4 linked regions of the Homo sapiens genome follow. The protein of the gene in region 4 interacts with the protein of the main gene of each other region in a biochemical or structural test. Each region holds a gene or a part of one and is shown on either strand. Other genes may lie near its edges.

Region 1 (4,018 bases), on a different chromosome or scaffold from region 4:
GGGAATAGCTACTCAGCCTTGGAAATGGAGAGCACTGCAGTGAATTCTTTAGGGCACTTTTGTGGCCGGATGCTTCCAACTTTGTCAGTCTTTTCTGCCTCAACTTCTTCCAGACATCAGTCACCATGAGACTGTTTTACTTTCAGGCGTATTGGGGGGTTTGATTTACTTTCCTTTTATTTCTTTATTTTTTGCTTATACTTGTTTTTGAAAACCTCCTCTGAGTTTGAAGGGACAGCTATTTTTATTGATTATCTTTAAGTCTCTCTACCATGGAGAAGAGCAGGAAGGGATACACTCTCCAGTGCATTTTCATGTTTTGAATCTGATTAGTGGATCACGTAGCTACTTTCCCTGTCGCGTCCAATTCACTATTTGCCCAGAAGCTTGGGGCAGAGGTCCTAGCAGGAGATGATGAATTCTCGTGGCTCTCGGCCTTCTCAGAGAAATAAATGCTTTGTGTAACATCTGTGCACACCATCCATTCCGCTCGCTGAGCGATGGAAAAGCTTGCCTGGAAGACTATGTGCACTGAAGTAAATGGGGTTGGGGGAGGGGACATTTCATATTTATAATGTGCTGAAGGTACCATATTTTAAATGTTATTTAATGCAGGTGATTTATTCAAACATTTGTTCTAGCTTAAGCTGGAATAAGCAGTGGTCATTTCAGAAGTTTTCATTTGTAATTCCTTCCTCTCCCTTGTTCCCAAGTAGGTAGTAGTAAGTATGTGCCACAGGCTGATTATCTGGGTAATCTTTTACGGGTGGGAGGTGAGATTGATAGTGCAATAATCAGTGATCTATAGACCCTCATGCACGATTCAAGTTTCACTCTTGTGGCTGATGCCATTATTGCACATTGGCCATTCCAAACCTGTGGAGAACTTTGTTGTCAGGCCCTGAGCGCTCACAGCTTCATTTGGCCCAGGTTGAAGACAAGGAAAGCTCTGCTGTGGCTGCCTCTGGACTGACACCCTCCCTAATGAGTCCTGATGAAACAGCCTTTCCTACATCCTTCCCTCACTCCCATGATTGGAGAAATGATTCATTGGGTGATGAGTGTTGGGGTTTTCTATACTCATGTTGCCATCTTGAGATGTTCAAAAAATTTGGGGTTAGAGCAACTGTTAGCGTCTCTATGAGCAATCAGTAGAACTTACACATCCTAGGAAATCTTTCTTTGTAAGTAATTCTTTTGGTCTCAAGTGATTCTCTTCATGTTGTCTCTTGATGTACATACCCCCAAGCAAGTTGGGGGGACTGTGATGACAATTAAATCACCTTCTCTGAAGTTCTGGCTCTGCAGAGACCAAACCTTACTGACTTGTACAGACTTGTACAAGTAAAGACTTATACAGATAGATTTTTGTTTTAACTTACAATCCGTTTTTTCCTCTTTTTTTTTTTTTTTTCTGGTGTTGGAGTCTTATTTAGAAAACAGGATAAATGACGCTGTTATCAAAAGTTGCCTGGGGTTCTGTATTTCTTCTCTGCCCTCCAATCCCCGACTGCTATGATGTTTACTACAGTGAACCCAGCCCATGGTAAACACAGGCTTCACCTGTTCTTGTTTGTTAGCCTTGACTGTGAGGCAGGACTTCCCTCGCTTGAACTGTTACACATACGATGTGTGTGTCACATCACATATTGTGCAGCTGTTGGTTTTCATGTAGTGCCCTGCGATGGAAATTAGATATATTTCATGTATTTTTCCATTGAAGGTGGAGTTTTTCAATGATCATGTGTTTTGTCCTCCTAAACAGTATACCAAAGTTTGTTTTTATAGTTGAGGATTGTATTGATAACCACTGGGGTTCCGCATTGAAGCAGGAACAAATTGCCTCTTTTTCTGGCCTTCTCTGTGGGACCTCTGCTTTTGTGAAGCAACTATTTATTTGAAGACCAGGGTATGGGCACTTTTGCCTTCTCTCCTCTCTGACTTTTGAGGGTATTGAGGGCGCCCTTAGTCATAGTCTCGACTCCGCCATTGCCTTCTCCTCGGCGTCCTCACAACTCTTAATTGGGCCTAGTGAAAATGGGGGCAGGTGAGAAGTCCATTTTGAGAATCAGCATAGTAAATTACATTTCTAATCCCAGAGGACTTAATATTTTCTTTTGTCACCCCAGAGGTGAAAAATCAGCAGTTGAAGCCTGACAGGCCTCAGTGGTGACCAGGAACAGAAGCAGCCTTCCTGTTAGTAGATGGGGGTACTTCTGTGGTGGGCAGAAGCCTTACTAAAGGGGAAGACAGACTTTGAAGTTTCTAGACGAGAAGGAGGCTAGCTTCTAGCCTGGGTGGCCATTATTCCAAAAGGTCATTGTTTCTCACTAGACCCCAGGGCACCAGATGAATTTCCAAGTTTAAACTCTTTCCTGCAGGTGATTACTTTGAAAAAGGTTGGTCCAGACCATTTTGATCAAGAACCTGTATATGTGTTGTGTTAGAGGCATCTGCCTCAAGTCTATGTACAGTGTTTGCTGCGGGTGTGTTCCAATATTCATTTTACCTCTGCTTGGGGGTTTTGTGTGTTCCCCTCCCCCCATGCCCTGCCTACCCCCTTTTCCCTGAACCACGTCCTTTTGAATAATTTCCAGATGGATTTCTGTAGCCATACCAAAGCCAGGGTGTTTTCATTCATGCGGATACTAGTATTTATAGATGTCTGACTACCTAACTTAATTTTTGTTTTTGAACTTCTAATTGGGGCCAGTGTAAGGTCGATCCCAGAGGCTGATCTGCAAATCAAGCTACATGTATTTGTGTATAAGACCCTGTGTTCAGGACTGGGTGACTTTTCTAAGAAATATGGGGTTTAGAATGGGGTTGACTGTATTTTTTAACCTAATTCTGGAGAGAAGATTGTATTTTTTACAGTTTTTTGGGTTTGGCTTCCTTCTCACATTTCTTTAGCTTTGAATTTTTACTAAATAAATTTCCTCCTGATTAATTTTTTTTTTCTCATCTGGGAATTTGAAATCTCGGTGCTTACTGTTACACCAATTTGTCCAAAGAGTTGAAATCACTTTAATGCCAGAACATGGTAAATTTGCAGCCATTTCAAGCAGGTGATGGTCTTTTTTTATAACATCGTTAACGGGTACCATTAAATATTCTGAGAGGTGAATGTAAAATATAAAAGGTATAGGTTTTTTTTTTTTTTTAAAGAAAACAATAAACTTTCAAAGAGAAAACCAGCATGAAGTCTGTATTGTATCCATTGACTTGATAAGTGATAGAAATTTATTTTAGGTTTTTGATCCATTGCTTATGGGGAAAGGAAGTTAGGGCAGAGGAAGGGATATTCTAGACATTTAATTCTTAGTGAAGACTAAGATACAGAATGATGTCAGGCTAATACTCAGTTTTGTAAAGAGCAATCTGGGGTGTTGACCCTTAAATGTTTGTGCACTCTTCTTGTTGCAGATAAAAGTCATTAAAAATCAAGTGAATAGAATGGATCTTGGGTGGAAAAACAATCTTGAAATAAACTTGTGATTGAGGATATTGTTCATTTGGTGCATGATTAAGGAGGATATTGTTCCTGGCTTTTGAGATAGTGCCTACCAATCTTAACCAAACAGTGATGGTATTTGTACTGCTCCCGGGGTCAGCCAACAAGCCTGCGTGCTGCCACAGGTGACCGACCTGTGACCCAGTTATGGCACCCCTTTGGGAAAGACTGCTTTATGCTTTAGATGATGGAGAGGGGTGGTTTCTGTTTTTAAAATGTTTGAATTAGACAGAAATGTGCACAAGTTTTAATTGTAGAAGTTGTTGAAATCTCTCAAAGTGAATTCATCCATGTAACTATTATAGCATCCAGATCAAGAAATAACATTCCCAGAACCCACAAGCCCCTTAGACTTTCAGCTACTCCTCCCAACTAGTTTTCTCTATTTTAAGTACCTTAACCTTCAAGCTCTTGAGCTGCTTCCTTCCATGGTTGTTCTAGAAGAGCCAGGTACCTGGTATAGGCTAGGGATTGACCAGGAATGCAAAGAGCTAGCAGCAAAGG
Region 2 (4,484 bases), on a different chromosome or scaffold from region 4:
CTCAGGAAATTGATGAAGATGAAGGCATCCACAGCCATGAAGGAAGTGACCTAAGTGACAACATGTCAGAGGGTAGTGATGATTCTGGATTGCATGGGGCTCGGCCAGTTCCACAAGAATCTAGCAGAAAAAATGCAAAGGAAGCCTTGGCAGTCAAAGCGGCTAAGGGAGATTTTGTTTGTATCTTCTGTGATCGTTCTTTCAGAAAGGGAAAAGATTACAGCAAACACCTCAATCGCCATTTGGTTAATGTGTACTATCTTGAAGAAGCAGCTCAAGGGCAGGAGTAATGAAACTTTGAACAAGGTTTCAGTTCTTAGTTTGTAAGGTATATTACATTTTATATTCATTTATGATAGCAGACAACCTTTTAAGATTGCTTTAATTAGTATCTGATGTTGATTTTTAAGTGGCATTCTTTTCCTTAGGACTTTTTATGTATACCTGTTGATTGTTGTGTAAATTTTAGTAAATCTAAGAGAGTGTACTAAACCAGCAGGTATCTGTTAGCTTATGTGTTTAATTGAAATTAGAAGGCTAAGATGGTATAACAGCATTTTATTGCTTTGTCCAGCTACAACTTGTCATTTTTTTCTCCATGTCTTATCTTCCTGTTTCACTTTAGTTTATTCTTCGTTTTTTATTGAGATCTATAAAAAATTGGCTTACTTAATAGCAAATTACTTGAAGAATTTGCCTGCTTTATATAAAGTTAGCACTTTAAGATTTTTTTTTTTAGAGATGAGAAGACATTTAAATTGAAGAAAAATTCCCCCAGCAATAGACAGTCTATCAGTCCAAGTATTTACTTCCTGAGTTTTGATCAATATTTTTTATTTGTGTATGTTAATCGTCATAAAAACAGTGATTTTGGTGTGTTTTTTATTTTGGTGCTTTAATGGCTTAAGATGTTGCACATTTTTTTTTTCTTTTGGTTTCTGTTTATGTTTTTTTGCCTATGCAGTTAAATTTTTCCTAGAAATAGCATTTGTGTTGAACAGTAACACTTTATACATATATATATGCATGTTTATTTTGTTTGGCGTCTTTGGAGGGATGCTTTTAGACTTGTTTGCAAAAGGGCAGTTTTCTTTTTCTTTGCTGCAGTTGTCTATTTTGCAGAATAATAGTGTGTGCAAGTTTGTGAGCAAATGAAATATGCAGGTTCAATCTATTGATTTTGATTTTTACATCTTATATCTATGCCAGAATCTGTATTTCATATAACTTATTTATTTCGAATGGATGTAGTAAATTCACAGCTATCAGTTTTGATTTTGCAATAAATAAACCACTAGGTTGCATGTCGAACAAATTTTTATCTCAAATACCAACCATCAGTTTTTTTTTTCATGTGTTTTGGTACAGCTAATTCCTAATTGTAGAGTGTTAAATGTTTGAGGAGAACCTTTTCTCATAGATGGTTGGTGTTCATATGGCTACTTTACAATAAAGAGAACTGTAAGTGATATTTGGAAACTACAAACCTGGAATTAGGAGATATAATTATTCCTTCAAGTTTTATAGAATATCACTTGGGAGATTCCAAAGCCATAGCTATTACGCGGCAAACCTAGGATAAGAAAGGTAGTATGAGTGCTGGTAGACCAGCTGCAACTTTCCTATACAGTGAAAAAGGCTGGTGAAACAAGTACAGTCCAGATTTTTTAAAATCATACTTTCTCAGGGATCTCCACAAACTGGTGGGTGTCCTGGCTGTCTGTGTGATAGCCTCTTTCTATAGGTGAGGCCTCAAATGAATTGCAGCTATCCTGGTGTTCCTATGAGGGCACTTTGTATGAAAAAGGGCATGTACTCCAAAACATTTTTGTAGGTTCTTTGGCCAGTTGCCAAAGAGTGTGAAAGAATCCAATAGAGGATTTTTCTTACTGATAGCAGTCATTCATTGCAGTAAAATAAAATATGATCCCATTAGGGAATCTTGAATTCTGACCTCCCATACTCCGTTTTGAAATAACCACTTTATATTTCATTTTTTAAAAATCTGATGATCTCTTTGAGGCAGGTTTCAGATTTGGCAGTACAACATGAAAGATTAGGAAAAGCATTAATAACGTGTGGGTGGAAAGCTTGTTAAAAATCTGAGAGTGAAGTTTGAGTTAAAAGTTGTTTGAACATGGCATTGACTGGGAGGCCAAAGATTTAAAGAAGCGGAAGATTCTTCTCTTAAGACATGAGGAGTAAGTTGTGTGATAATGGTATGTGTTTTGTGTGCATGAATGGACATTGTAAATGTTGAATTCTAGGCTCCGACAATCATTGTCAACAGAAGATCAAGCTGCAAATATTTATGTTTTAAAACTTAAATTATAAAGCTAGTTAAGTCTTTCTAATGACTAGTTTTAATGTTCATGGGTACATTTTACCTAAGTTACCGTTTACATTGTATAGAAAAAGATACATCTTAAGCACAGATTGGTTATTAGGAATTAGTTTGGGGAAGAGGTTTTTTTGTGGATTCTTTCATACTGCAAAGAAAAACCATTTGCCTTTTGGGGAATTGAGCTAACTTCTAATCTAGTCTTAAGACTAGAATGCTAAAAACAAAAACATGAAGGAAATTAAAACCCCTTATTATTAAATTGATTTGTAAAAACATTGTTACTGGAAATTTATTGGACTTGAGGCCTTCCTCCAGAAAATAAGGACTTGATTGTCAGGCCTATATTAGGTTCTGAACCTTAATGCCATGTATTTGTACTTACTAAAAATTGTTTCAATGAAAAGTACATTAGCAGTATGAACTTCTGGTCCAGTTGGAAGTTTTTCCATTTGAAAAATGTGATGTTTGCATGGAACTGTTTGAAACTTTTTTATTTTCTAGTCCCCCTCCCCCACACTGGATAGAATTTAGCCTAGAATTTTCCCTTTGGATAAAAGAACAAAAATTGAACATGTTATTTGTAAATTGATGTTTAGTAATTAGTGATAAACTTGAAATACTAGCATATATTATAAGCCTTAATCTTAGGTAGTCTTATGAAAATGAATCTCTTAACTATCTTTTGAACCTGTATTCACATTGGTTTTCAAGATATTTTAAGTTATATTTTTTCCTCTTTTCAGAGCTGCTTCTTATTCTGGGGCTACTTTTTTTTTTAGTTGTGTAATTCACAAAGGGCTGCATTTTTTTTTTTTTTTAATAAGGCTTATAACTATGGCTGGATCTTTTGCTCTAGTCTTCTAAGAAGGGCCATTTTATTTTTTAGAGTCACTTCTAAAGTCATGTGGTAATTAACTTTGGAGACTGTTTTGCGTATGAGTGCTGATACAAATTAAAACCCAAGTAGACCTCATTGCATGTCACCCTATGAATGTTGACAATGGAAGGAATACCTTGCCTGTAGTATACTGTCACTTCTGGATTGATAAGCTGAGGAAGAAAGTTAAGTTTCTTTTTTACATAAGTCAGAAAAACTTACAGCTGGTGTTCCTAGTTTCCTGGTTGACCTCAGCAGATGAAGTGAACAGATAGTGTTAATTCAGATTGAAGAAATTATCTGAATCTTGGTTTGTGTAGATTTACAATCTACATGCAATATTAACTAAATCAGATAGCTTTTACAGTTTCACATGTGTACATAGGTTCCCTCCCGGTCCCTTCCATATCCATTAGTTATTGAACTTTCTAAACTGGCATTGAAACATTACAACAATGTTTTGTTGCACCAATTTTATAAACTTAAGCAGTGCAATACGTGTTACTTTTCTGAGGCAAACCAAAGGTAAATTTCTCAAGGTTCTTGCTGCCTTCTTTAGCAGCATTTGATGGAAGATCTTTTATACATTTGTAATAGATAAAAATAAACCAGATTGCAAATCCTTTTTTAAAATCCTAAACCATGTACCAAGTTTTTGGTCCAAATTATGTAGGATAAGTTAAACTTAAATTGCATTCTATTAACCAATATGAGTGTATTTCTGTAAGCATAGTTATGTTGAAATAAAGTTTTAAAAACCATGATGCCTTTGTTTATTATTGGTATATCCAGAATGTAGGAAAGCCAAATTTATGTTGCTGGAACTGCAAGTGTATTAATAGGCTTTTGAAGATTATTTCTCAGGCTGGGCGCAGTGGCTCACGCCTGTAATCCCAGCACTTTGGGAGGCTGAGGCAGGTGGATCATGAGGTCAGGATTTCAAGGCCAGCCTGGCCGACATAGTGAAACCACGTCTCTACTAAAAATACAAAAATTAGCTGCGTGTGGTGGCAGGCGCCTGTAATCCCAGCTACTCGGGAGGCTGAGGCAAGAGAATCGCTTGAACACAGGAGGTGGAGGTTGCAGTGAGCCGAGATCGTGCCATTGCACTTCAGCCCAGGCGAGAGTGTGAGACTCTGTCTTTAAAAAAAAAAAAAAAAAAAGTATCACAGGTAGAAAAGTCACAGCATGTTGTCTGAGGTAACAGTCCAGTATGGGTAGTAACCCAAAGCATACACTGCTTGATGGGAGGTGCGGGAGAAA
Region 3 (7,492 bases), on a different chromosome or scaffold from region 4:
GAATGGAACGGTAAAGAAAAAAATAGCCTGGAAGAAGGTACGTCACAAATGTCATGATGAACGGCAACTGCAATTTGCTGTGTCACAGCAAACTGCCAGAGCTATTTGTTGCTATGTGATGATGTCGCTGCTCTGAGACAAACATGCTTGGGAATTTTTGTGTTTTAAATGTCTCTGTTTTCATTTCTAATAAGTAGATCTTGATATAGTCCACAAAAAAAGTACTTTGTGGTCTTCAACAATTTTAAGAGTGCAGAGTTCTGAGATCAAAAGTTTGAGAACTGCTCATCTAGGGCATAGAAAAGGCAATTTAAGTGGCATGTTGTTTCGGTATTAGGAGCTAGCAGGACTCATTGGAACATTTTAAAATGAGGAATGACCTTAAATGTTTTTAATTGGCCTTATCTTTAATAGACTTCACCTTTCTCTTTTTTTCCTAATGCCCCTCCTTCATCTAGGTCCTCATACTGCAGTGCGCCACTTGGCCTATCTTACTTGAGTTTGGGATAAGAGGACTCTTAACATTTAGGCTCTTCTTTCCTTTATTCATATCTAGATGGACCTATCTTGTGTTGTTTTGCAGGCTCTGTTAATTGTATGTAAGGGCTAATGAGGTAGCTTTCCTAGAAAGTAATTTGCATTTTTAACAGATAACTTTTGAAGACACAGTCACTTCATTCAACAGTTATTTTGGTCAGAATGAGGAAGGTGGAGTAGGTAGAAATCCACTATGAATATTCTGAGAATCCCAACAGACTAAGCCATAGACACCACAGGATTAATAAATGAGGCTCCTTGGAATGACAGCAGCAAAAGGCAATTTCCACCGCAGCTACAGCACGCTGGGTACTGCCCAACCAGAGGATGCTCCTGAGCATCCTCCTCTGGCACTGAGGAGCCCAGCGAATTTCCAGTGGCCAGTGGTGTGGCTGGTGACTGACTTGGGTTATAGCTCTATAGCCTCTACTAGTTACTTGCAAAGTCTCATAGGAAGAAGGCAGCCTCTAAAAAACGCTGAGGCTCATAGACACTGATATTATTTTATAGACACTATCATCGAAGAGAGGGTCTTAAAGATATACTTTGCAATGGCTATTTTTCACTTACATTCTTCTTTTCAAATTTAAATAGTGGTAACCTCTTATACAATTTTAAATAGTCTTTATTTATTTACTTATTTATTTATTTATTTATTTTTGAGACAGAGTCTCACTCTGTTGCCTAGGCTGGAGTGCAGTGGCATGATCTCAGCTTACGATAAACTCTGCCTCCCGGGTTCAAGGGATTCTCGTGACTCAACCTCCCTAGTGGCTAGGATTACAGGTGTGTGCTACCACATCCGGCTAATTTTTGTATTTTTAGTAGAGACGGGGTTTTGTCAAGTTGGCCAGGCTGGTCTTGAACTCCTGGCCTCAAGAGATCCGCCTGCCTTGACCTCTCAAAGTGCTGGGATTACAAGCGTGAGCCACCGCGCCTGGCCTAGAGCAGTACTGTGAACTTCAGAGTTCCCAAGCACCTCCTGCCTCCACAAACGCACAGCTTCTCCCACTATCAAACATCCTGCGACACGGTGGTACATTTGTTACCACTATCGAACCTACACTGATACATCATTCAAAGCCATAGTTTATTTTTTCATTTTATTTTTTTGAGACAGAGTTTTGCTCTTGTTGCCCAGGCTGGAGTGCAACGGCACGATCTCGGCTCACCGCAACCTCCGCCTCCCAGGTTCAAGCGATTCTCCTGCTCCACCCTCCATATTAGCTGGGATTACAGGCATGTGCCACCATGCCCGGCTAATTTTGTATTTTTAGTAGAGACGGGGTTTCTCCACGTTGGTCAGTCTGGTGTCAAACTCCTGATCTCAGATGATCTGCCGTCCTCGGCCTCCCAAAGTGCTGGGTGAGCCACCGCTCCCGGCCTCAAAGCCACAGTTTACATTAGGATACACTTCTTTTTTTTTTCGAGACGGGATCTCCTTGCTCTGTCACCCAGACTGGAATGCACTGGGGAGATCATGACTTACTGCAGCCTCAACCTCCCAGATCAAGAGATGCTCCTGCATCAGCCTCTTGAGTAGCTGGGACTACAGTTGCACACCACCAAACCCGGCTAATTTTTGTATTTTTTGTAGAGATGGAGTTTCGCCATATCGCCCAGGCTAGTCTCCGATTCTCCAATACCTGGGCTCATTGATCCTTCCACATCAGTCTCCCAAAGTGCTGGGATTACAGGTGTGAGCCACTGCGCCCTGCCAGGGCTCACTCTTGACGTTGTAGGTTCTAGTTTTGACAAATGTGTAAAAACATATATTCACCATTATAGTATCATACAGAATACTTTCCCTGCCCTAAAAATCCTCTGTGCTCTATTCATCCCTCCTTCCCCTCTAGCCTTTAGTAACCACTGATCTTTCTACTGTCTCCAGTTTTGCCTTTTCTTCCTTTTTTTGAGACAGAGTTTTGCTCTTTTTGCCCAGGCTGGAGTGCAATGGCGCGATCTCGGCTCACCGCAACTTCCGCCTTCCGGGTTCAAGCGATTCTCCTGCCTCAGCCTCCCGAGTAGCTGGGATTACAGGCATGCGCCACCACCCCGGCTAATTTTGTATTTTTAGTAGAGATGGGGTTTCTCCATGTTGGTCAGGCTGGTCTTGAACTCCTGACCTCAGGTGATCCACCCGCCTTGGCCTCCCAAAGTGCTGGGATTACAGGCGTCAGCCCCCGCGCCCAGCCCAGTTTTGCCTTTTCTAGAATGTCGTATAGTTGGAATCATACAGTACACAGCCTTTTTAGAGTGGTATCCTCTTTTATGATTTCTTTTCTGCCTTCTAGACTGTTCATATTAACCTCATTTTACCTGTGTAGAAGTAGATGGTAGTTGATACATGAAAAAGCAAGCAAGCTACAAAGCGTGGCCTGGGGAACTCTTCCATCAGCATCACATGAGGGTGATAAATTCCAGAAGTAGGGAAGAATAGAGGGCTACCGTGATTAGGGAACTGTGTTTAGAAGGGTTTGGGTATCAAGACAGCCTTGGAAAGAGAAGCAGGACCCACATCTGTGCAGGGCGAAGCAGGTCAGGTTAAGTCGTTGAATTTTTTCAAAGTGTAACACGAAGCCATTGGAGGGTTTTCAGCAGAGTAATCAGATCTTATTTACATTTTAAAAATAATACTTTGACTGCTGGGGAGAAGTGACTGTAGGAGGACCCAAGAAGCACTCTCCTAGTTAGGGAACCAGAGCAGTAGCTGAGGCAAGAGATAATGGTTTGCTCTAGCAATACCAACGGTGAGAAACAGGGATTGAACATATTTTGAAGGTAGAATAGCTCAGACTTGCTAATGGATTGAATGGAGAATAAAAGGCTGTGAGAGTGTTAGGAGAGAAACATAATTTTGCTGGCTTCAGGAACTTGCAGATTTACCAAAACAGTAAATATTGATATGGTGAAGAAACCTGGGGGGTGGGGAAATAGGGTGTTGCACATGTAAATATGTCTTCCACGTGACATTTTCCCCACCTTCTATAGTGAAGAATTTCAGAGCAAACTGGAAAGAGTTTTACAAGCAACACCCATATCCCCATCGCCTAAGTTTAACATCTTACCATATCATCTATTCATGCCTCTATCAGCCCATCTTACTTCAGTAATGCGTTTAAATTGCGGGCATCAATGCACTTTCCTCAGAATTCACCTCAGCACGCATACAATTTATGTCTAGCTTTTTTCTTTTGATCTAAAATTTACATTCAAGGTGAAACGCCCAGATCTTGACTGCACATTAGCTGAGTTCGGACACACGCGTACACCCGTCTAAAATCTGAGATGCAAAAAAGCGGCATAATCAAACGGGCTGCTGGATGTAGGAATCTGGAGATTAGAAGAGAGGTCTTGGCTTGAAATATAAATCTGGGAATCACAAGAACATAGGTCTACTTAAGCTATGAGATTGGATAAAATCACCTAGAGGGTGCAGAGGGAAAGGGAAGGGTCTGTGCCCTCAGAGACCAGCGTTTGGAGGTCGGTCGGGTGGGAGCGGGGGGTGGGGGTGGGGGGCGCAAGGGTTGAGCAAGCCCGAACCAGCCGGCCCAGCCGGGGTCCTGAGAATCACCCTTGCTCGGCGCCAAGCCACCGCTTTGACCTAAGAGCCACCAGGTTGGGGGGCAGGGCGTGGAGAGGACTCCCGGCCAGAGGCGGGAAAGGCAGCCGGGAGGAGAGGAAAGAGGAGGAGGAGGGGAGGAATATGCGGCGGAGGGAAACGGAGAAGAGGTTTACGGCACGGAGGGGAAAAACGAAGGAAGAGGAGGGGCTCGGCAAGGAGAAGGAAGGGGAGAAGGGGGAAGCGCAGGAGAAAAGGGTAGCCGGGGAGCCGGGAAGCGGGCGGGAGGGAGGGGAGCGGCGGGGCGGAGGTCGCCGCAGCGGCCGGCCGAGGGCGGGCGGAGGGAGGGGGTGTGTGCGCGGGTCACATGGTCGCGGCTGCCCTCCCCGTCAGCCGCCCTCGCCGCCGCGGTGCGCTGGCTGCAGGAAGCCGCCGCGCCGCCGCTTTTGTTGTCAGGGACCCAGCGAGGAGCGCCGCTCGCCGGCCGCCGCCACCCTCTCTCGCTGCAGCCTGCTGTGCGCTGCACGGCCTGGGGCCCGGGAGCCCCGCCCGCTCTGCCCATGAGGGGGCCCCGCGACCACCGCTGCTTCCAGCCCGGGGCGGCGCGGCGCTGAGGCGGCGGCGGCGGCGCTGCCCCCTCTGCGGGAAGCGGGCGGCCCCGGCCGCCTCCGCGAGGGCACCATGGAGGTGAATGCAGGTAAGAACCGGACTGCGGCGGGTGGGGGATGGCCGGAGGGAGCGCTCAGAGCCCGCGGGGCACTTTGGGGGGCGGCGGCAGGGGGTGTCCCCATGGCCGGTGGGGCGGGGTGGGCTGCTGCGCGCCGCGTGTCCGCCTCTGGCTCGGTTCCCATCGCCCCCCGGGCCGCCCGGCGCCCGCCCTCTTGTCTCCCTGCAAAGCCGCAGCGCGGCCTGCCGGCGCCCGGCCCGGCCCCCCCCTCACATGGCCCGGCCGCGCGAGCCACGTGCGCGCTGTGTTTACGTTCGGCGGCGCGCGGGCGCCGGTTGGCTGGGCGGGCGCGTGACGCGGCATTACATAATGGGCGCTGAGGCGGCGGCGGCGGGCGGGGACACGTGAGGCCGCTCGGCTCCCTGACCCACATTCCCCGGGGCCGCAGGGACACGTGGGGGCGGGGGCGCGCGCGCGCGCGCTGGCTGGGAGCGCCGCAGCCTCCCGGGAGGCTCCGCCCCTTTGGAAGCCTCGGGGCAGTGACGTCGCCGCGATTCCCTCCTCCCCCGCGGGGTTGCACACTGCGGAGGAGGCCGCGCGTGCGCGCCCGCTGAGCCCCCGCGGCGGGGCGTCCCCGAAGCGGGCGCTGACACCGCAGTGCACCGGACGCCGCACGCTCTTTTCGCGAGGTGACCCCAAGGCGCGGACCCCGCGCAAACCAAACGAACCGGCGCCTGGGGAGGCTGGTAGCTGCATACCTTGCAGATTCCGAGGAGGAAGTGCAGGACGAGGGCGTGCTGCAGGCCGGAGGAGGCGCCTCGGGGAAGGCGTGGGGCTTTCCCGAAGGGATACGCTCGAAGGAGCTCTGAGGTGCTTCGATCCCGAGCGACTCCCCGCAGACTGGGTAGCACCGCCCCTGTTAGGATGCCGTCTGTTTACAAAAAAAACCGTTTGCTCTAGGACGCGACCTGTCTCATACACACACAGTCTTAAAAACTGCTTCCAGATCCCTTCGGGCTGGAGTTTTCCAGTAAACGGGTCACACCCGCAGCTGAGCGTGCAGCTCACGTATGGTCAGGATGACTCAGGTGATCATAGGTGACTCCAACACCATATGTAAGACTGGACATTCTTCATTTAAATTAAAAAAAAATTAACCTGTGGGTCGCTGACTTTTCCTGAATCTGATCAAGAGAATTTGGCTTTATAAATATTTTTCTTGTCACATTTTGTTACATTGCAACGGAACAACAGGGTGCCCTTCCCTCCTTTTGTCTGCCCCAAATGATGAGGTAGATCTGAAGTGAGTGAGGTTATGGAAACAGCCAGCTTTTGTTTTATTTTTTGAGTTGCAATGCGCCTCTAAGAATCTTGCCTCGATAACAAATGTATTGTGAACTTTTCACCAAAAGTAAAAATAAAGTCACTTTCTAATTTTATTTACGTATTTTTAGAATTTACTTATTTTTTTTAACCTGTTGTCTCACAAAAATCTGGATCTAATTGTGTTTTGATTACCTAATCGGCCTACTTAGCCTTTGAGGGTATTTTTAAAATTTTATGAGTTTATCATAGAATTAAACTTCTACATGTTAGAATTCAGAGGTGATCAGGGTGAACCTCTTCTAACCCACCCTTTAGCATGAATTCTAATAGCTTTAGTAACCTCATAAGGGCTGGCTCAATTAGGAAGTTTTTCTCTGGTTTGAGCCCTCTTCCAATACTTCGCTGATCTAAATCTTGCCTCGTGGAGCAAGGCACATTATAAAAATTCCTCCGGATGAATGTTGACCATCCCCTTCCCCCTTCAGTTCTTCCATTTACAGTTCTCATCTCTTTGTCCTTGCCCAGCATTGTTTTTTCTGATCACTCATCATCCTTGTTGCCGTTTGGGATGGAGCACCCAGAAGTGAACAGGCTCTTGTGGAAGTGGTTGGATGATTATCAAGTTCCAAGTTGCCCTCTTTGTCTTGAATCCTGTTGCAAATGAATTCCCTGGCAGGCTTAGTATTTTTGGCATGTTGCTTTGCTGACTCACAGTAACCTTGCAGTCAACTAGGACCTTTCACGTGAACTATTATGAAGTTAGATTTCATTCATTGTGCAGATAATTGCATGACTTGAAGTGTAGGAATTTACAATGACCATTCTTAAAATTTCTCTCGTTCATTTGGCCTTAAGTTCAAAGCTGTTACAAGCTGTTACCCACCATGTTTACAGTTTCTGCTATCTATCAGTAAGCAGGAGGTCTAATAAGAATTGCCTTAAACTGGCCGGGCACAGTGGCTCACGCCTGTAATCCCAGCACTTTGGGAGGCTGAGCCGGGCGGATCCCCTGAGGTAAGGAGTTCGAGACCAGCCTGGCCAACATGGTGAAACCCCGTCTCTACTAAAAGGACAAAAATTAGCCGGGCGTGGTGGTGGGCTCCTGTAATCCCAGCTACTTATGAGGCTGAGCAGCAGAATAGCTTGAACCTGGGAGGTGAAGATTGCAGTGAGCCGACATCGCGCTACTGCACTCCAGCCTGGGCGACAAGAGCGAGACTCCCATCTCAAAAAAAAAAAAAAGCCTTTTAACTTTCGAATTTTTGTAAACATTGACCAAGGTGGGGCCAGATTCAGCGCTGTGTGGCACACCTCTACCCTTCCCTCTAGTTTGGTTATCAGTTGACAAACATTCAACCAGTGATCCTGTAATCTTACTGTCCTTCGTGACATCTCTATGT
Region 4 (7,864 bases):
GCTGCTCTGTCTATGGAGTAGCCATTCTTTAGTCCTTTACTTTCCTAATAAACTTACTTTCAGTTTACTGTATGGACTGGCCCTGAATTCTTTCTTGCGTGAGATCCAAGAACCCTCTCTTGGGGTCTGGATTGGGACCCCTTTCCCGTAACAGTGTCAGAGGTGTTTGAACCAGAGGAACCCCGACTTGAATAGGGGCTGGGTAAAATAAGACTAAGACCTACTGCACTGCATTCCCAGATGGTTAAAGCATTCTTAGTCACAGGATGAGATAGGAGGTCAGCACAACATACGGGTCATAAAGACCTTGCTGATAAAACAGGTTGCAGTAAAGAAGCCGGCCAAAATCTACCCAAATCAAAATGACCTCTGGTGGTCCTCACTGCTACACTCCCACCAGCGCCAAGACAGTTTAGAAATGCCATGGCAACGTCAGGAAGTTACCCTCTATGGTCTAAAAAGAGGAGGCATGAATAATCCACCCCTTGTTTAGCATATCATCAAGAAATAAATCATAAAAATGGGGAATAAGCGGCCCTCGGGGCTGCTCTGTCTGTGGAGTAGCCATTCTTTGTTCCTTTATTTTCCTTATAAACTTGCTTTCACTTTACAGACTCTCCCTGAATTCTTTCTTGCGTGAAATCCAAAAACCCTCTCTGGGGGGTCTGGATCGGGACCCATTTCCTGTAACACTGGGAGGCTTTGGTAAGAAACGGACTGTCCAGACATCTGGTGGCCACAGAGTGTTCAGTCTGCCTTCGCTGCTCTTCCTGGCTGGGAGCCACAAATCTTCCATGCTTTACTTTCTAAATACCACTCCCTTCCACCCACCGCTCTCTACTTCCACTGCTCCCATCCTGGTCTAAGCCACCATCGTCCTTTGCCTAAATGATGAAACAGCCTCCCTCCACCCTCCCTGGCTCCGCTCCAATCACTTTCCTGCAGAGCAGCCAGAGTGATCACTTTCAAATGCAAACCTGAACTTGCAGCTCCTCCGCTCAAAGCCCTTGGATGGTTTCCACCAGCGTGAATGCTAAAGCCTGAACTCAGTGCATAAGGTGCTGTGTGTTCCGCTCCTCTGGCTGCTCCGGGATTATCTTGTACTCTCTTTCTTCCCCTCCCTCTCTGCAGCCTGGGAAACTCGTCTTAAAAAAAAAAAAACTCTTGAAATGTACCATGCTGTCTCCCACCTCAAAAATCACAGCTGTTCGTGATTTTTCTCATGATGAATGCCTACGCATTCTTCAGATCTCAGCTAGAATGCCACCTCCTCTGGGAAGCCTCCCTCATCTCCTGCAAGACTGGGTTAGGTTTCCCTAGGTAACAGGTGGTATTTTCCAAAAATAGCCACAACATATTTCCTGTCCCACATGATACTCTTGGCCATTTGCCCTCCTCTTGAATTTAGGAAAAACTTTGTAACAGCCTGTATGGAAAGAATGCAATGGAAATGATTCTGCGTGACTTCCGAGTCTGGGTGAGAAAAGGTAATATGGGAGCTGGGTGCAGTGATGCATGCCTGTAGTCCCAGCTACTCAACAGATTGACGTGGGAGGATCCTTTGAGTCCAGGAGTTTGAGGCCAGCCTGGGCCAGCCTGAGACCCTGAGTCCCACCCCAACCCCTGCCATCTCCGGAAGAAGAAGAAGGAGAAGGAGAAGAGGAAGAAGAAGAGGAAGAGGAAGAAGAAAAAGAAAAGATGATATGATTCCCACCTGGCTCACACGCTCACTTGTTCTTAGAACGGTAGTTGTGAAGAAGCTCAGGCTGCAAGGAGACCACATGTAGGTATTCCAAGCAACGGCCCCAGCGAGGGTCTCGGCCTGTAGCCTGTAGCAACTGACATACATATGTGTGAGCAAACATTCAGGTGATTCCAGCCCCCAGACTTTGAGCCACCCAGCTGATGCCAAGGTTGAGTTATTCCTCCCAAGCCTGCCCAAATTGCAGATTGAAGAGTAAAATGAATGTCTCTTTTCTTTCTTTTTTTTTTTTTTTCAAGACAGGGTCTTGCTCTTGCTCTGTTCCCCAGGCTGGAGTGCAGTGGCGCAATCTCAGCTCATTGCAACCTCCACCTTCTGGGTTCAAGCGATACTCATGCCTCAACCTCCCAAGTAGCTGGGATTACAGGTGTGTGCCACCACACCTGGCTAATTATTGTATTTTTAGTAGAGATGGGATTTCACCATCTTGTCCAGGCTGGTCTTGAACTCCTGGCCTCATGTGATCCACCCACCTCTGCCTCCCAAAGTGCTGGGATTACAGCCATGAGCCACTTGCCCCGTGAATGTTGTTGTCATTTGAAGCTTCTAAGTCTTGAGCTGCTTTTTATTTTCTTTTACAGAAAGCCCAGACCTTACAATGTTTTTATTTTTTCTCTCCATTTTTCTTTCTTTTTAATGTTTTTGTACAGATGGGATCTTGCTATGTTGCCTGGGCTGGTCTCAAACTCCTGGCCTCAATGCATGCCCCCACCTTGGCCTCCCAAAGTGCTGGGATTGTCAAGGGCTCATTTGTTACACAGTCATAGCAACAGAAATTTAGGAACTGTTACATGTATACCTTCTCTTTAAAGTATTTGTTACATGTGAAACTTTACATTTGTGTGATTACTAGATTCCTGTCTATCCTGAGAGACTAAAAGCTCTTAACGGCCAAATTTGCGTTCCTTTTTACCATTCTATTCCTGACACTTAGCAAGGTGCCTGGTAAATGATGCACTCGATGCCAATTTACTCTCAACTTTCCTGCACCTCTTCACTTATAAAAAGAGAAAGCACTTGGTCATTAATTGAACGTTCACTTATTTGATGAATGCTGACTGAGAGACTGTGTCAGGGATTTGTATTAGAGACGGACACAAAACAAATATGAAATACAAGGGACTGAGGGGAGACATAGAAGGGGACTGGGAACACTTCCTGAGGGAAAGGGATATTTGGGCTGCGTTTAGAAGGATGTATAGGTGTTTTCTGAATAACAAAGAGGCATGACAGTACTTCTGGCAAAGGAAATGGTGAGTGCCAATGCTTGGGACCAGGAAGCAGCCAGGTTGGTCAGGCAATTGTGTGAAGTTCTGCACAGAGGCAGGCAGTTTGCTTGGAAAATCCTGCAGGAAAAGGTTCCTAAGGACCAATTCTGACAGCCTGCAATGTAGGTGCTTAGATTTCATCTCATTAGAAATAGGAAGACCTTGGAGGTTTGGAAGGAGTGGTGGAAAAAGTGGAGTTTTTTGTTTTTCTGTTTTTTTTTTTTTAAGAGATGAGATGCTCTTTAAAAAAAAAAAAAAAAAAAAGCACTGCTATGCTTCCCAGGCTGGGGTGTGCAGTGGCAAGATCATGGCTCACTGCAGCCTTGAACTCTTGGGCATGAGCAATCCTGCCTCAGCCTCCCGAGTAGCTGGGACTAAACGTGTGCACCACCACGCCCAGCTAATTTTTTCATTTTATTTTATTATTTAATTAATTAATTAATTAATTTTTTGAGACAGAGTTTTTGCTCTTGTTGCCCAGGCTGGAGTGCAATGGCGTGATCTTGGCTCACTGCAACCTCCGCCTCCCGGGTTCAAGCAATTCTCTTGCCTCAGCCTCCCGAGTAGCTGGGATTACAGGCATGCGCCACAAAGCCCGGCTAATTTTGTATTTTTAGTAGAGACGGGGTTTCTCCATGTTGGTCAGGCTAATCTCCAACTCCAGACCTCAGGTGATCTGCCCGCCTCGGCGTCCCAAAGTGCTGGGATTACAGGCGTGAGCCACGGCGCCCAGCCAATTTTTTCATTTTCTTTTTCTTTTTTTCAAGGCCCGGCTAATTTTTTGTATTTTTAGTAGAGACGGGGTTGCACCGTGTTAGCCAGGATGGTCTCTATCTCCTGACCTCGTGATCCGTCCGCCTCGGCCTCCCAAAGTGCTGGGATTACAGGCGTGAGCCACCATCCCCAGCCTAGAGTTCTTGATAGTATCAGGGCTGAGAAAGTACCAGAGTTAGAGCCAGGTGGGGTGGCACTAAAAGTACAAAAAATTAGCAGGGCGCAGTGGCGGGCGCCTGTAGTCCCAGCTACTCAGGAGGCTGAGGCAGGAGAATGGTGTGAACTCGGGAGGCGGAGCTTGCAGTGAGCGGAAATCGCGCCACTGCACTCCAGCCTGGGCGACAGAGCGAGACTCTGTCTCAAAAAAAAAAAAAAAAAAAAAAAAAAAAAAAGAAAGTACCAGAGTTAGGAGGCTCCTAAACTGGTCCAGATGGGAAGTGACGGGGCCAAGGATAGGGAAGTGAAGATGGGAGGAGTAGGACTAACTTAAAGGCCATTTAGCAAAAATTCACCACGCAAGGCCCTATATTAGGGCGCTGGGGGCTCATACCTCATCGTCCCGTCAACTCTATAAAGCAGGGGCCAACAAACTTTTTCCATAAAAGGCCAGATCGTAAATACTTCAGGGTCTGCAGATCTGTAGGATCTTTAGCAACTACCTACTCTGTTGTAAGGCGAAAGCAGGCAGAGAAGCCAGGTAAACGCGTGGGCGTGTCTGTGTGCTAATAAAACTTTATTCAGGGACCCTCAAATGTGAATTTCACAAACTTTTCACAGGTCATAGACTATTCTTCTTTGGATTTTTCCCCCGGCTATGTAAACATGTAAAAATAATTCTGAGCTTGCGGGGCCGGACAAAGTAGGCGGCGGGTCTTGGCTCGCCTACCCCTGCTATATAAATCATTAATTATGATACCAATCTTAAGGAGAAGGTCTTCAGAAGAGTCCCTCAAAGAGCACCGCCCCTCAACGTCATCAAACCCCGCCTCCAAAGGCGGAGGCTGCGCATGCGCGGCAGGACCTCGGGCGGGGGCGGGGCGGGGCGCAGCTCCGACTTCGGACATGGCGCACGCTGGCGGTGGCAGCGGTGGCAGCGGTGCCGGCGGCCCCGCGGGCCGGGGGCTGAGCGGCGCCCGCTGGGGTCGCTCGGGCTCCGCAGGCCACGAGAAGCTGCCGGTGCACGTGAGTGGCGTCCCCGCCCTCCCTCGGGGAACCCATCTTCTGGACCCCGCGGGCGGGCGCCCCTCACCCAGGCCCCGCCCGGCCCCAGCCCCACCTCGGCCTCCCCTCTGCACTGCCCCGGACCCCTCACCCCTCACCTCTCACCTCGGCCCTCCGAAAGCCCAGCCCATCCCCTTCCCCTCAGGGACCCCGGCCCCTCGTCCCCTCGTTCCGCGGCCAGGGCCCACCGGGACCCTCCCCCTCTCTGCAGGTAGAAGACGCCCTCACCTATCTGGACCAGGTGAAGATCCGCTTTGGCAGCGACCCTGCCACCTACAACGGCTTCCTGGAGATCATGAAGGAGTTCAAAAGCCAGAGGTACCAGCGGGGCCCCTCTCCACCTCAGGGGACCCCCCTGGGCCGGAATCGGGCCTAGCGGGGTGAGACCTCCCCTCTCCAGCCTGCCCCCTTAGCCGGGTGACCTTGCGCAGGTTGTCCAATCTCTCAGAGCCCTAGCTCCTTCTCGTAACAAAAATGGAAATGGGTAGTACCCACCTTGTGGAGCTTTGTGGGGATTCCTGGAAGCAGGACAGGGATCTGGGGGGAGGCAGGGAGGGCGAGGCCGTGCACACTCATAGAGTCAAATCCTGCCTTGATTTAATATGTTGATTTTTATATTAGTTTTGTTCATGAAAGATTTGGTGGGACCCATTTTGATTTTTATTTTCAAGCGCTGTAAAATGTTATTGTCTTGATGATTGAAATTTTTGGCACCCTCTTCCCCTTTAATCTTGTCCTCAAGATGCTTCTCTGGGCTCACTGTGGTCCCAGGCCTGCTTGGAAGTAAGACGCATAAAATGCTTAGTAAGGGAGCTGGCACACAGAAAACGTTTAAAACACATGAGATGATTTTGCAGGCCCAGAATCAAGGAAGATTACAGATAGATGGGAAACCCTGGGATCATGCCCTTGTTTTTATAGGAGACTCACTGAGGTTTGGAGTGGGTAAGGGACCCACCTAAGTGGCAGAGGTGTCACTAGAACTCAGACCCTCTGACTCAGATTCTTGGAAGTCACATGCTTACCATACTGCTGCCCCCTCTTAGGAAACATGGTGGGGCTGGCCTGGTTTCCTTCCGGGAGCCCAGTGCTAAGGGCTGGGCTGCAATGCAGCCAGAAGGGAGACCCCATCTCTCCCCTCCTATTTTTCTTACACCTTTCCCATTCTTGGCAGTACCATTGGTATTTATGCATTGCAATTGTTTGCTCAGATGGAAACCTGTGTCATAGTCATCTCTATCTGATACAAAATGAGGGAAGTTTTCACATTGCTTAGAGGACTTTGGCCTCCTGCCATTTCTTGGAGTCCAGGCCTTGCGGTTGGCTCTCCTGACATTTTCAGAACCGAGTACCCATTCTTGGAGTGTTTTAGGGGAGCTGAGCGATGTCAGTATTCTCTGGTTCTCACCAGGAGGGAACAGGGAGCTCAGGCCTAGCCAGTCAGGAGATAGGTCATGGTGTACAGATGCTATCACATGGGGGCACTTTTTTTTTTTTTTTTGAGATGGATTCTCGTGCTGTCGCCCAGGCTGGAGTGCAGTGGTGTGATCTGGGCTCACTGCAGCCTCCGCCTCCCGGGTGCAAGTGATTCTTGTGCCTCTGCCTCCTGAGTAGCTGGGACTGCAGGCACGCACCACCACTCCAAGTTCGTTTTTGTATTTTTAGTACAGACAGGGTTTCACCATGTTGACCAGTCTGGTCTCGAACTCTTGACCTCAGGTGATCTGCCTGCCTCGGCCTCCTAAAGTGCTGGGATTACAGGCATGAGCCACTGCGCCTGGTGGGTCACATTTTAGGTTCCTTTGTTGTCTGTTGAGAAGGTTTTTATGTGGCAGTATCAAGGGAGTGGGGAATAGATTATATTTTTCATTTATTTCCCAAGACCCTTTTGCCCACTTCCGTTGTTTCTTCTAGCATCGATACTCCTGGAGTCATCAGACGTGTCTCGCAGCTCTTCCACGAGCACCCTGACCTCATTGTTGGATTCAACGCTTTTCTTCCCCTCGGATATAGAATAGACATTCCCAAGAATGGCAAGTTAAACATACAGTCGCCTCTGACAAGCCAGGTATGCCACTACAGTGGTTCGGGTGATCTCAGCCTTCACCGAGTATGTCTTGCTACTCAGGTTGGGCCACGTGTCTCTCCTGTATCATTGCTAGAAAGCCACTTAAGATCTGTTCTTTTTCTAGACGTGCTCATTGCTTCTAGCACAAATCAAAATAGATATGGAAACACCTACACAAGCAGCCTCTGCCTCCCAAATTGATCTGTTTGGAAGATTTAAATCAAGAGTGGATGTCAGGGAGGTATCCTCCTAACGCAGAATTTTGTGTGAAGTCTAAATAACCACCTCAGCAGTTGCTGAGGTCTTGGCTTGAGGCTTTCCCAGCGAGCATACCAGGCAGGCTTGCCCTTGTATTTAAGCATGTCCTCGTCTGCCTCTGATCACTCTCAGTACCACCTACAAAATAAAGTGGTCGAGATGGTGTGTGAGTAGCCACGTTTATGTTGGCTGTGTTTCATTTAATTGTTGATAGGATCATTAGCTCAGCTGGGACTCCTGGCTTTGCTTTGGTCCCTTTTTTCTTGGGTGATAGGTGCTGGCCCTCTTTTTTTTTTTTTTTTTTTTTTTGGAGACGGAGTCTGGCTCTGTCACCCAGGCTGGAGTGCAGTGGCGCAATCTCAGCTCAGTGCAACCTCCGCCTCCCAGGTTCAAGCAATTCTCCTGCCTCAGCCTCCCGAGTAGCTGGGATTACAGGTGTGCACCACCATGCTTAGCTAATTTTTGTATTTTTAGTAGAGATGGGGTTTCTTCATGTTGGCCAGGCTGTTCTTG

What was found.
Region 1: the proteins of SIN3B (region 4) and SUDS3 form a complex in vitro, tested with the Homo sapiens proteins (one study listed by BioGRID).
Region 2: the proteins of SIN3B (region 4) and REST form a complex in vitro, tested with the Homo sapiens proteins (one study listed by BioGRID).
Region 3: the proteins of SIN3B (region 4) and NR1D2 form a complex in vitro, tested with the Homo sapiens proteins (one study listed by BioGRID).

The regions. Positions count from the first base shown.
Region 1 is NC_000012.12:118,414,529-118,418,546, forward strand, and holds the end of SUDS3 (sin3 histone deacetylase corepressor complex component SDS3), read left to right. Parts: 3' UTR 1-3,505; downstream 3,506-4,018.
Region 2 is NC_000004.12:56,931,863-56,936,346, forward strand, and holds the end of REST (RE1-silencing transcription factor), read left to right. Parts: coding exon 1-290; 3' UTR 291-3,982; downstream 3,983-4,484. UniProt on the Homo sapiens protein: Transcriptional repressor which binds neuron-restrictive silencer element (NRSE) and represses neuronal gene transcription in non-neuronal cells.
Region 3 is NC_000003.12:23,940,799-23,948,290, forward strand, and holds the start of NR1D2 (nuclear receptor subfamily 1 group D member 2), read left to right. Parts: upstream 1-4,487; 5' UTR 4,488-4,780; coding exon 4,781-4,796; intron 4,797-5,322; exon of another isoform or gene 5,323-5,455; intron 5,456-5,524; exon of another isoform or gene 5,525-5,764; intron 5,765-7,492. UniProt on the Homo sapiens protein: Transcriptional repressor which coordinates circadian rhythm and metabolic pathways in a heme-dependent manner.
Region 4 is NC_000019.10:16,824,555-16,832,418, forward strand, and holds the start of SIN3B (paired amphipathic helix protein Sin3b), read left to right. Parts: upstream 1-4,843; 5' UTR 4,844-4,866; coding exon 4,867-4,986; intron 4,987-5,236; coding exon 5,237-5,343; intron 5,344-6,939; coding exon 6,940-7,093; intron 7,094-7,864.